Regions from separate parts of the Homo sapiens genome. Here region 1 is linked to region 2. The links come from fine-mapping of genetic effects on gene expression. A gene starts in region 2. The other region holds a variant in brackets. All regions are shown on one strand. Distances are from middle to middle.

What was found. PIP is the estimated chance that this variant, and not a neighbour inherited with it, causes the effect.
Region 1: its variant is fine-mapped to the expression of TRAP1 in ovary (GTEx, PIP above 0.99).

The regions. Positions count from the first base shown.
Region 1 is chr16:2,810,065-2,815,434 of GRCh38, reverse strand. No RefSeq gene overlaps it. Among named protein-coding and RNA genes, the nearest start is that of PRSS21, 4.5 kb to the left of the region's middle. RefSeq lists enhancers at 1-496, 2,639-3,368, 3,369-4,099. The variant G/A (reference allele first, on the strand shown) is at 2,680.
Region 2 is chr16:3,715,176-3,720,545 of GRCh38, reverse strand. It overlaps TRAP1 (TNF receptor associated protein 1), which reads left to right and starts at 3,022. Exons shown (of 18, transcript NM_016292.3): 1 at 3,022-3,125. The coding sequence starts at 3,038. RefSeq lists silencers at 2,672-3,281, 3,302-3,421.

The DNA.
Region 1 (5,370 bases), 910 kb after region 2:
GACTCAGGTTCTTGCCTCCAGTGAGGCTGGGGGCTTCCCGCAGAGGCCAAGCCTGGCCCGGGGGCTGCAGGGAGGCCCTGGCTGCTGCATGGGCTGCAGATGGAGACTCTCTTGTCTGCTGTGCCTCAGGCTGCAGAGTCACAGAGGGGTCTTCCCAAGCCCCACACCTGGAGGGCAGGGAGGACAGGGACTTGTGGTCCTAACCCGACTCCTGACACATAAGGGCCAGCCGGCCCGGAGCCACCTCTGCGGGCAGGAGAAGGCCTCATTGTTCCCTTCTCCTGGCAGAATGAGGACTGGGGCGTGCCCGGGGCAGGAAATAAATGCTCAGTAAATCCCTCTCTTGGGAGCCCTGATCCCAAGGGACAAAGGGCCTGTGTTGAGTCTCCCTGGGCACGGGCTCGGGGCCAGCACTTGGGCCATGGCAGATGGAGGGTGGGAGGAGGGTGCCTCCCACCAGGTGGGCTTCTTCCCCAGGTCAGGCATGCAGGTGAGGAGCGTCCTCGTGTGTGCATGCCCCCTGCGTGCAGGAGAGGCTGGGCGGGTGTGTGTGTCTGGGTGTATGTGTGTGCATGCATCTTCAAGTGCACGTGTGTGAACGACCATGTGTGATCCCCGTTCTCGTGCCATCTGAACATCCCCTCCAGTGTGCATTTGGGTGAGTCCTGGCGCCCCTCTGGCCAGGCTGCTAACTATCCCTTCCACCAAGTCCCCTCAACCTCAGCTGGTGCTTCTGGAGTCCTGGCCCAAGTGACTCTCCTTCTGGGCGCCAAACCCTGTCAGCCTGGAGTTAGAAAGAAGGCCCCTGAACTGCCAGCAAAACATGGAAAGACAGGTCGGGTGCCATGGCTCAAGCCTGTAATCCCAGCACTTTGGGGAGCCGAGGCGGATGGATCACAAGTTCAGGAGTTCGAGACCAGCCTGGCCAACATGGTGAAATCCTGTCTCTACTAAAAGTACAAAAAATAGCTGGGCATGGTGGTGGGCACCTGTAATCTCAGCTACTCTGGAGGCTGAGGCAGGAGAATCATTTGAACCTGGGAGGCAGAGGTTGCGGTGAGCCGAGATCGCACCATTGCACTCCAGCCTGGGTGAGAGGGCGAGAGTCCGTGTTTAAAAAAAAAAAAAAAACAAAAAACAAAACAAAACAAAACATGGAAAGGTGCCCTTAGGCTGGGCTAGCGCGAGAACACAGCCCGCTTTGTGGCACCTCCAAGCTCCTGCCTCTGAGAGCTGTGCTGGCCAAGGGCTTGGCCTCTTCCACCTCCACCTCCCTGAAGGAGGCTCCTCCTGAGAGGGACTCCGCTGCCCACTCCCTGTGCCTGGCCCCTGCTATCCCTGAAAGTCAGAGGAATGCTGGACGGGTGGTGCAGAGGGGTGGGAGCTGGGTGGGTGGTGCAGAGGGATGGGAGCTGGGTGGGTGGTGCAGAAGGGTGGGAGCAGAGGTACAGTGGGGGCCTCATCTTGGCACATCAGTCAGTGGGAGCCCAGCTCTGACCAGCCCCTCCAGGGAGACGGTGCAGGCGTCACAACCAGAGCCAGGTGCCAAAACTAAAGTGAGGCTCTGCTCCCGCCCTGTCAGTCTCTGGCAACTTCTGTTTTGCTTTCTGTCCCTACGCTTTTGGCTGCTCTAAGTACTTCATATGTGTGAAATCACACGGTGTTCGTTTTTTGTGACTGGCTTATTTCACTGAGCACAGTGTCTTCATGGCTCATCCATATCGCTGTATGTGTCACAATTTCCTTCCTTTTTCTTTTTTTCTTTATTTTATTTTATTTTATTTTTTGAGACAGGGTCTCCCTCTATTGGCCAGGCTGGAGGGCAGTGGTGAGATCTTGGCTCTCTGCAGCCTCAGCATCCCAGGCTCAATGTAATCCTCTTACCTCATCCTCCCAAGTAGCTGGGACCACAGGTGCGGGCCACCACACCCAGCTACGTTTTTATTTTTACTTTTATTTTATTTTATTTTTTTTTTTTTTGAGACTAAGTCTCACTGTCGCCCGGGCTAATGTGCAGTGGGGCGATCTCGGCTCGCTGCAGCCTCTGCCTCCCGAGTTCAAGTGATTCTCCTGCCTCAGCCTCCCGAGTAGCTAGGACTATAGGCGTGTGCCACCACGTCCAGCTAATTTTTGTATTTTTAGTAGAGACGGGGTTTCACTATGTTGGCCAGGCTGGTCTCGAACTCCTGACCTTGTGATCCGCCCACCTCGGCCTCCCAAAGTGCTGGGATTACAGGCATGAGCCACCGCGCCCGGCCCATTTTTATTTTAAATTTTTTGTAGAGCAAAATGTTATCCAGGCTGGTCTTGAACTCCTGGCCTCCAGCGATCCTTCTGCCCTGGTCTCTCAAAGTGCTGGAATTACAGGTGCGGGCCACCCATCCATGGCCCCCCTAGTTCTCTTGTCCTCCTTCCCCTCACTAAGACAGCCAGAACAATGAATAAACAATATTTGTTTTTGTTTTTGTTTTTGTTTTTGAGACAGAGTTTTGCTCTTTTTGCCCAGGCTGGAGTGCAATGGCGTGATCTCAACTCACTGCAACCTCCGCCTCCCGGGTTCAAGCAATTCTCCTGCCTCAGCCTCCCAAGTAGCTGGGATTACAGGCACCTACCACCATGCCCCCTTTTTTTTTTTTTTTTTTTTTTTTGTATTTTTAGTAGAGACAGTTTCACCAGGTT[G/A]GCCAGGATGGTCTCGATCTCTTGACCTCATGATCTGCCCGCCTTGGCCTCCCAAAGTGCTGGGATTACAGGTGTGAGCCACCGCGCCTGGCCAACAATTAACTTTTAATGAAAATAACTGAGGAAGAGCACCAGAGTGCTTTAGAGGAGTAACAGAAACCTGGTGAGCAGAGAAACTCAGGATGGCCGCATGAAGAACAGAAGGAAACACTGGGCCTGCACCCCAGTCCTCAACCAGGATCAGCTGGGAATGAGGCAAGGAGGTAAGCAGGGGATCCCAGGAGCCCCACCAGCACCTTGGACACCTATAGCCCTCACCACTAGCGTCCCCTGTCCTCACAGGCACTAAGCCCAGGCAAGGGGGCTAACTGAGGCCGCACAGCTGAGCTCCCTGCAGAGGAGCCCACAGTGAGCCCATTTCCTGTGGTCACGTGGCTACCGCACTGCGCCAGCGGTGAATTGGAACTACAGCCAGAGCATATCTTGCCCTGGGATTGAGTAGCCACAGTTGCCCTTTATCCCTGAGACTAATCCACCACTGAACAACCTCAGCCTGGTGGCTTCACACCCCTAAACTGAGCCGTGAGCAGCGGTCACACCCTTGCTCCTGGGGCCAAGCAGTGGTGGAGGTGCTCCACCTAACCTTCCCCCTTCTCCGCTCAGGCCAGAGCTGAAGCCACAACCTGCCTCCCGGGAAAACAGCACCTTGGCTGCTCAGAGCTGAAGTTGGAGAAGCGTGCTGCATTCCAGGAAATGGTGCCAGGGCTACCCAGAATAGTCTCATTCCCCAGGCCTAAGCTAAAGCAGCCCACTTCCCCCAAGAGATCATTGCCCTGGCTGAGCTGAGCAGCTGTGAATCCAGGGGTTGACCTGATGTAGTAGCTCGCATCCCAGGGAAACATTGGCTCAGCAGTGGCTAAGCTGAGACACCCTGCTGTGGGCCATCTCCAGCTGAGACACCGCCCTCTGGGCCAGCTCCAGCACCTTGCCTCCCTGGATTAGCCTCCTAGAGATAGAGATAGTCTCCCTGCGCTGCTCCCTGCCTTCCCCTCGAATGTGCTGTTTCCTGCTACCTCCCTCCCCAACAGGACTGAAATGACAGCTGTGCTCTGCCACTCTGCCAGTGTATCTGGCTTCATGAAGTCGGGGATACTGCCAAGCCCTACCTTCTCGGGGTTCAGAGTCACTACTGCATGGAGCCTCAGCCCTTGAACCCTGAGTTACGCTGAGCCCCTGAACCGTGAGTTACGCTGAGCCCCTGAACCGTGAGTTACTTTGAGCCCCTGAACCCTGAGTTACGCTGAGCTCCTGAATCCTGAGTTACGCTGAGCCCCTGAACCCTGAGTTACGCTGAGCCCCTGAACCGTGAGTTACGCTGAGCCCCTGAACCGTGAGTTATGCTGAGCTCCTGAATCCTGAGTTACGCTGAGCCCCTGAACCGTGAGTTATGCTGAGCCCCTGAACCGTGAGTTATGCTGAGCTCCTGAATCCTGAGTTACGCTGAGCCCCTGAACCGTGAGTTATGCTGAGCCCCTGAACCGTGAGTTACGCTGAGCCCCTGAACCCTGAGTTACGCTGAGCTCCTGAACCCTGAGTTACGCTGAGCCCCTGAACCGTGAGTTATGCTGAGCTCCTGAATCCTGAGTTACGCTGAGCCCCTGAACCCTGAGTTACACTGAGCCCCTGAATCCTGAGTTACGCTGAGCCCCTGAATCCTGAGTTACGCTGAGCCCCTGAACCCTGAGTTATACTGAGCCCTATTGGCTCAGGCCCCGGAGTGGCAGCCATACCCTGATCCCCAGGTTTAAACATGAAGAGCACCACATCTTCCCCAGAGTTGGGTCATTGCTCTGCCCCCCACAGTAGAATCACAGCTACAACCCAGCCCCCTGGGCCTGACCTGCTAGAGAGTGCGTCAGAAGTACAGATCCTGGCTTTGTGGGCAACGCACATTCAACCCTGCCACAGAGAGTAAGCCTGCACCCAGTGACCCAGGCCTTGCCTCAATTTGTACGCCAGGCTCTGAGCCTAGGACCCCAGCCCCACAGCTACTCCAAGCACCTGCAAACGAAAGCCAGTGCCACTGCATTGTCTTGTGAGCCATATCAAGCTTGACACTAAAAGGTCCCCTTTGGCTGCATGTCCCCATTGTGGGGAAAATAAGAATAGGAGGATCCCAAAAGCCCTTGACATCAAGGACATTAACAACCACTGCCACAAATCTGTACAGCCTGGGCCTCAAGGCACCCACAGTTATTGCTGATGCTCAACACAGCTGAAGAGCTGCACCGAGACCATATCACTGCACCCATCTGGAAACACAGCCACCACACCCTTTCCAACCAGCACACTAAGACCCAACTGCAGGTAAAAGTCTATCTCTATGAAAGCCACTCTAGAAACTTTGGAAGAGGCGATTGTTCCACCAGGTGTACAGACATCGGTGCAAGGACACAAGAAACATGAAGCAGCAAGAAAATCTGGCATCAAAGGAACATAATTGTCTAGTAACAGAGCCCAGTGGAAAAGGAAATCAGTGAACTGTCAGAAATAAATTCAAAATAATGATCTTAAGAAAACTAAATGAGGCCGGGCATGGTGGCTTACGGCTGTACTTTGGGAGGCCAGGGGTGGGGGTGGATCACCTGAGGTCGGGAGTTCAAGACCAGCCTGACCAACATGGTGAAACCC
Region 2 (5,370 bases):
GTTATTAGAGTGTGGCAGTGAATCTTCAGTGTGCCTCCGAATTACCTGGGAACCTCAGTGGAGCCGCCTGGGCCCCACTCCGGGACTGAGGAGGTGCCGGGAAATCGGCATTATGAGGCTGCAGCTGGGTCTGGACCAAATGTTAGACCAGGGTGTATGGTCTGAATCTCCAACTAGTCTCTAACCTCCAGCAAGGTGTAAAGCAAAAACAAATTCTTTTTTTGCTGTTGTTTTTTGAGATAGAGTCTCACTCTGTTGCCCAGGCTGGAGTGCAGTGGCACGATCTCAGCTCACTGCAACCTCTGCCTCCCGGGTTCAAGCGATTCTCCTGCCTCAGCCTCCCGAGTAGCTGGGATTATAGGCATGTGCCGCCATGCCCGGCTAATTTTGTATTTTTAGTGGAGACAGGGTTTCTCCATGTTGGTCAGGCTGGTCTTGAACTCCCAACATCAGGTGATCCGCCTGCCTCGGCCTCCCAAAGTACTGGGATTACAGGCGTGAGCCACCGTGCCCAGCCGGCAAAAACACATTATAAGTCCCCCAACCCATGGAATGGATCATTCCTCTCCACCAAGGGGATTTCAAAGAAACCTAAAAAACTAGTTCAGGCCATAATTGGAAGGATGGGGTGGGTCCTGCCTCATTACACCCTCCACCCCTTGGAAATGAGGCACAACTGACCAGCGTTAACATTACAAAGGACTTTTTTTTTTTTTTGAGACGGAATCTTGTTCTGTTGCCCAGGCTGGAGTGGGAGTGCAGTGGTGCGATCTTGGCTCACTGCAATCTCTGCCTCCTGGGTTCAAGCGATTCCCCTGCTTCAGCCTCCCGAGTAGCCTCAGCTGTACACAGGTGCACACCACCACACCCAGGTAATTTTTTTTGTTTTTGAGACAGACTTTCACTCTTGTTGCCCAGGCTGGAGTGCAATGGTGCGGTATCAGCTCACTGCAACCTTCACCTCCTGGGTTCCAGCGATTCTCCTGCCTTAACCTCCTGCGTAGCTGGGATTACAGGCATGCGCCACCACGCCTGACTGATTTTTTGTATTTTTAGTAGAGACGGAGTTTCTCCCTGTCAGTCACGCTGGTCTCGAACTCCCGACCTCAGGTGATCTGCCCGCCTCAGCCTCCCAAAGTGCTAGGATTACAGGCGTGAGCCACTGCTCTTGGCCTAATTTTTGTATTTTTAGTAGAGATGGGGTTTTGCCATGCCGACCAGGCTGGTCTCAACCTCCTGACCTCAAGTGATAAGACCACCTTGGCCTCCTAAAGTGCTGGAATTACATGCGTAAGCCACCATGCCAGGCCACCTTTGCAGGTCTTTTCCTGATCCTGAGGGTCTAGGAATTTTTAACGGTCTGAATAAACAATATTTGCGAAAACATTTGCCATCTATTACCTGTAAGGGTGGTCATCTATGAGACTTCCTCTACATAATAAGAACCTTGGTCTTCACAACCTGTTTTTTGTTTGTTTGTTTGTTTGTTTGTTTTGAGACAGGGTGTGGCTCTCTTGCCCAAGCTGGAGTTCAATGGCACGAACTTGGCTCACTGCAACCTCTCCCTCCTGGGCTTAAGCAATCCACCCACCTCAGCCTCCCTTGTAGCTGGGATTACAGGCCTCCGCCACCACATCCGGTACAGGTATGTTTGGTACAGACAGGGTCTCACCATGTTGCCCACGCTGCTCTCCAACTCCTGACCTCAAGCAATTCGCCCACCTCGGCATCCCAAAGTGTTGGGATTACAGGTGTGAGTCACCGTGCTCGTGCCCACAACCCCTTATCTTCACCCAGACACTCTTTTTATTGATTCCAGGTCTGTATAACTCAACTCTTTTTTTTCTTTTTTTTGTTTTCTTTTTTTTTTTTTTTTGAGACGGAGTCACAGCTCTGTCGCCCAGGCTGCAGTGCAAGTGGCACGATCTCGGCTCACTGCAACCGCAGCCTCCCGGGTTCACGCTATTCTTCCGCCTCAGCCTCCCCAGGAGCTGGGACTACAGGCACGTGCCACCTTGCCCAGCTAATTTTTTGTATCTTAGTAGAGATGATGGGTTTTCACCATGTTGGCCAGGCTGGTCTCGGACTCCTGACCGCAGGCAGTCCGCCCACCTCAGCCTCCCAAAGTGCTAGGATTACAGGCGTGAGCCACCGCGCCCAACCAGAACTCAACTCTTTTAACCAATTGCCAATCAGAAAGTATCTGAATCCACCTATGACCTCTAAGTATTTCACCCTTTGAGTTGTCCTGCCTTTCCACACGGAACCAACCTATGTCTTACATGCATTGACTGATGTCTTATGTCTCTCTAAAATGTATAAAACCAAGCAAGCTGTAACCCAAGCACCTTGGGCCAAGTTCTCAGGACCTTTTGAGACTGTGCCTCCCTCCATGCACACTCATATTTGGCTCAGAATAACCTTCTAAATACTTTAGAGTTTGACTCTTCTCGACAAGGACAAGAGAAGTGGAATAAACGAATAACCGCAGTTTTCCTGGTGGTATTGGTCACTGGGTTCAGGTTTTGGAGTAGTAGCCAGTCAAGCCTGGAATCCCCTTCCTCATTCGCTTTAGCTTTTTGTCCAGTCTTGGTTTGCAAGAGACTTGCAGCGGCCTAGACGGATGGCCGGGATTCACAAAGGTCGCAGACACGGGAACTGCTTCTTCCCCAGCGTCGCCTCCACACCCTCGCGTGGATACTGACATCCGCCCCATTCCAGGAATGCGCACAGCTAGGCGCAGCCGGCCAGCGTGGGCCGGGGGCGGCGGGGCCACCTCCCCCACCTCCGCGCGCAAGGCCCGTCGCCCTTGACAACGCGATCCAAGGTCACGGAGGTCCCACCCCCAGGCCCGACCGTCCACGAGACGGGTAGTACCCCGCCACGCGCCCGAGCAGGCAGCTGCCCGGACAGCCCGGCGCCCGCCGTGACGTCACCGCCCCGCGCCCGAGGAAGCCCCGCCCCGCGCAGCCCCGTCCCGCCCCTTCCCATCGTGTACGGTCCCGCGTGGCTGCGCGCGGCGCTCTGGGAGTACGACATGGCGCGCGAGCTGCGGGCGCTGCTGCTGTGGGGCCGCCGCCTGCGGCCTTTGCTGCGGGCGCCGGCGCTGGCGGCCGTGCCGGGAGGTGAGGGCGTCCTGGCTGGACGGGCAGCGGGCGGGCCGGGCCACGGAGACGGCAGGGACGTCCCTGTGCTCCGGGGAGCGAGGCGCCGGCACCTGCTTCACAGGCGTGGGAGGTCCGGCGAGGCCAAGCGCGGCAGACGCGTTTACTTTCGCTCCGCTCCTCGCCAGCTCCAGCTTGGCTGCCTTTTCCTCGGCTGGACTCCCCTCGCCACCCGCCCATGGGAGCCCTGAAGGAGGCTGGGTCTTGGGGGGTCGCGGGGTCGGGCGGAGCGGCTGCGGGGTCGTCCCTCCTGGAGCTTCGGTCCAGTCAGGTAGCGCACGTGCAGGTGGAGCCGCTGCGGAGCGCGGAGTCTTTGCGGGTGCATGTTGCGGGGAATGGACTCACTCGGGGTGATCGTGCTAGTTCCATGGATCGTGCTTTACCCCTCCCCGCCTCCCAGTAGCGCACTGAGGGTTCATTTGTTAATTCGTTCATTGGACGCACATGTGAGCGCCCGCTCAGTGCCCGGCGCCGTGCAGGTTCTGGGGACGCCACAGTGAACAAAACCTATAGCAGTCATCCGGGTCCCCAGAGCAGGTGGACTCGATGTCGTTGACGCAGCTGTGTCCTCGGGGCCTGGAATTGATGGATGCGCCAATAAATGTTTGTAAAACAGAGAGAACGACCCTAACCTCTGCTTTCCCAGTCCCCACTCGGAGGTAACAACAGTGAAAGTTTCGGCATTGCTTCGGGGCTGTACACAGTGTTATACGTGTAAATATAAATGTCTGCGTATAAGTATTTTTTATTCTAAAAAGCCTAAACCATGTATGCATTGTGCTACGTTGTACTTCAGAAAATTTTAACGCTCCCAGCATTCTTTCCACATCTTTTCATGTCAGTGTATACAGGTCCATGTGCCTTCCAGTGACCACACAGTATTCTGTATGATGGACGTGTCATTTGTTTAAACATTGTCCTATTAGTGGACGCAATAAAGGTTATTTCAGGTTTTACTTTTTATTACAATGCTGCATAGAATGGGTGAGTACTTAAATATTTGTTCACGTGCGGTATTTCTTTAGCCTTACATAATTAGAATTTTAGAATTGATATTTCAGAGCCTATGCATTTTTGAAATGTTAGCAGATACTGCCAAATTGTCCAAAAAGGCCTTATCAATTTATATCCCCTTTAGCAGGCATCAAGACTGCCTATTCCAAAGGTATTTTCTTCAACGCTGAATCTTATGTCTTTTCAAAACCAGTGGTCTATAAAAGATACCTTGTGGCCGGGCGCGGTGGCTCACGCCTGTAATCCTAGCACTTTGGGAGCCTGAGGTGGGCAGATCAGGAGTTCAAGACCAGCCTGGCCAACATGGTGAAACCCTGTCTCTACTAAAAATACAAAAATTAGCTGGGTGTGGTGGCGCGCGCCTGTAATCCCAGCTTCTTGGGAGGCTGAGGCAGGAGAATCGCTTGAACCCAGGAGGCAGAGATTGCAGTGAGCTGAGATTGCACCACTGCACTCCAGCCTGGGCGACAGAGTGAGACTTCATCTCAACAACAAAAATAATAATAATTTTCCCTCAGAAAGTGATGCTGTTGCTCTCTTCTAGCACCAGTGTCTGATCAATTATTTATTTATTTTTTTGTCTTTATGAGGTGGGGTTTCACTATGTTGGCCAGGCTGGTCTCCAGTGCCTGACCTCAAGTGATCTGCCTGCCTTGCCCTCCAAAATGCTGGGATTGCAGGCGTGTGTCACCGTGCCTGGCCAACTGTTCTGTTAATTTGGTTCTCGTTTCTTTTGTAGCTGACTCGGGTTTTTTCCCCCTTGGAGGTTAAGATTTTTTCTCTTTGTCGTTTGTGGTCTCGCGTCCACAGGTGTTTGTGATTCATGCTTTGTATCATGCACTGTCCCTTCCATTTGGAAAATATGTCAGTTTTCAGCCCAGGGACATTTTAATTCTGTTTCTTTATCTCTTTTTCTTTTTCTTTTTTTTTGAGATGGAGTCTTGCTCTGTCACCCAGGCTGGAGTGCAGTGGCGCGATCTTGGCTCACTGCAAGCTCCGCCTCCCGGGTTCAGGCCATTCTCCTGCCTCAGCCTCCCGAGTAGCTGGGACTTTAGGCGCCCACCACCATGCCTGGCTAATTTTTTGTATTTTTAGTAGAGACGGGGTTTCACCCTGTTAGCCAGGATGGTCTCGATCTCCTGACCTCGTGATCCGCCCACTTCGGCCTCCCAAAGTGCTGGGATTACAAGCG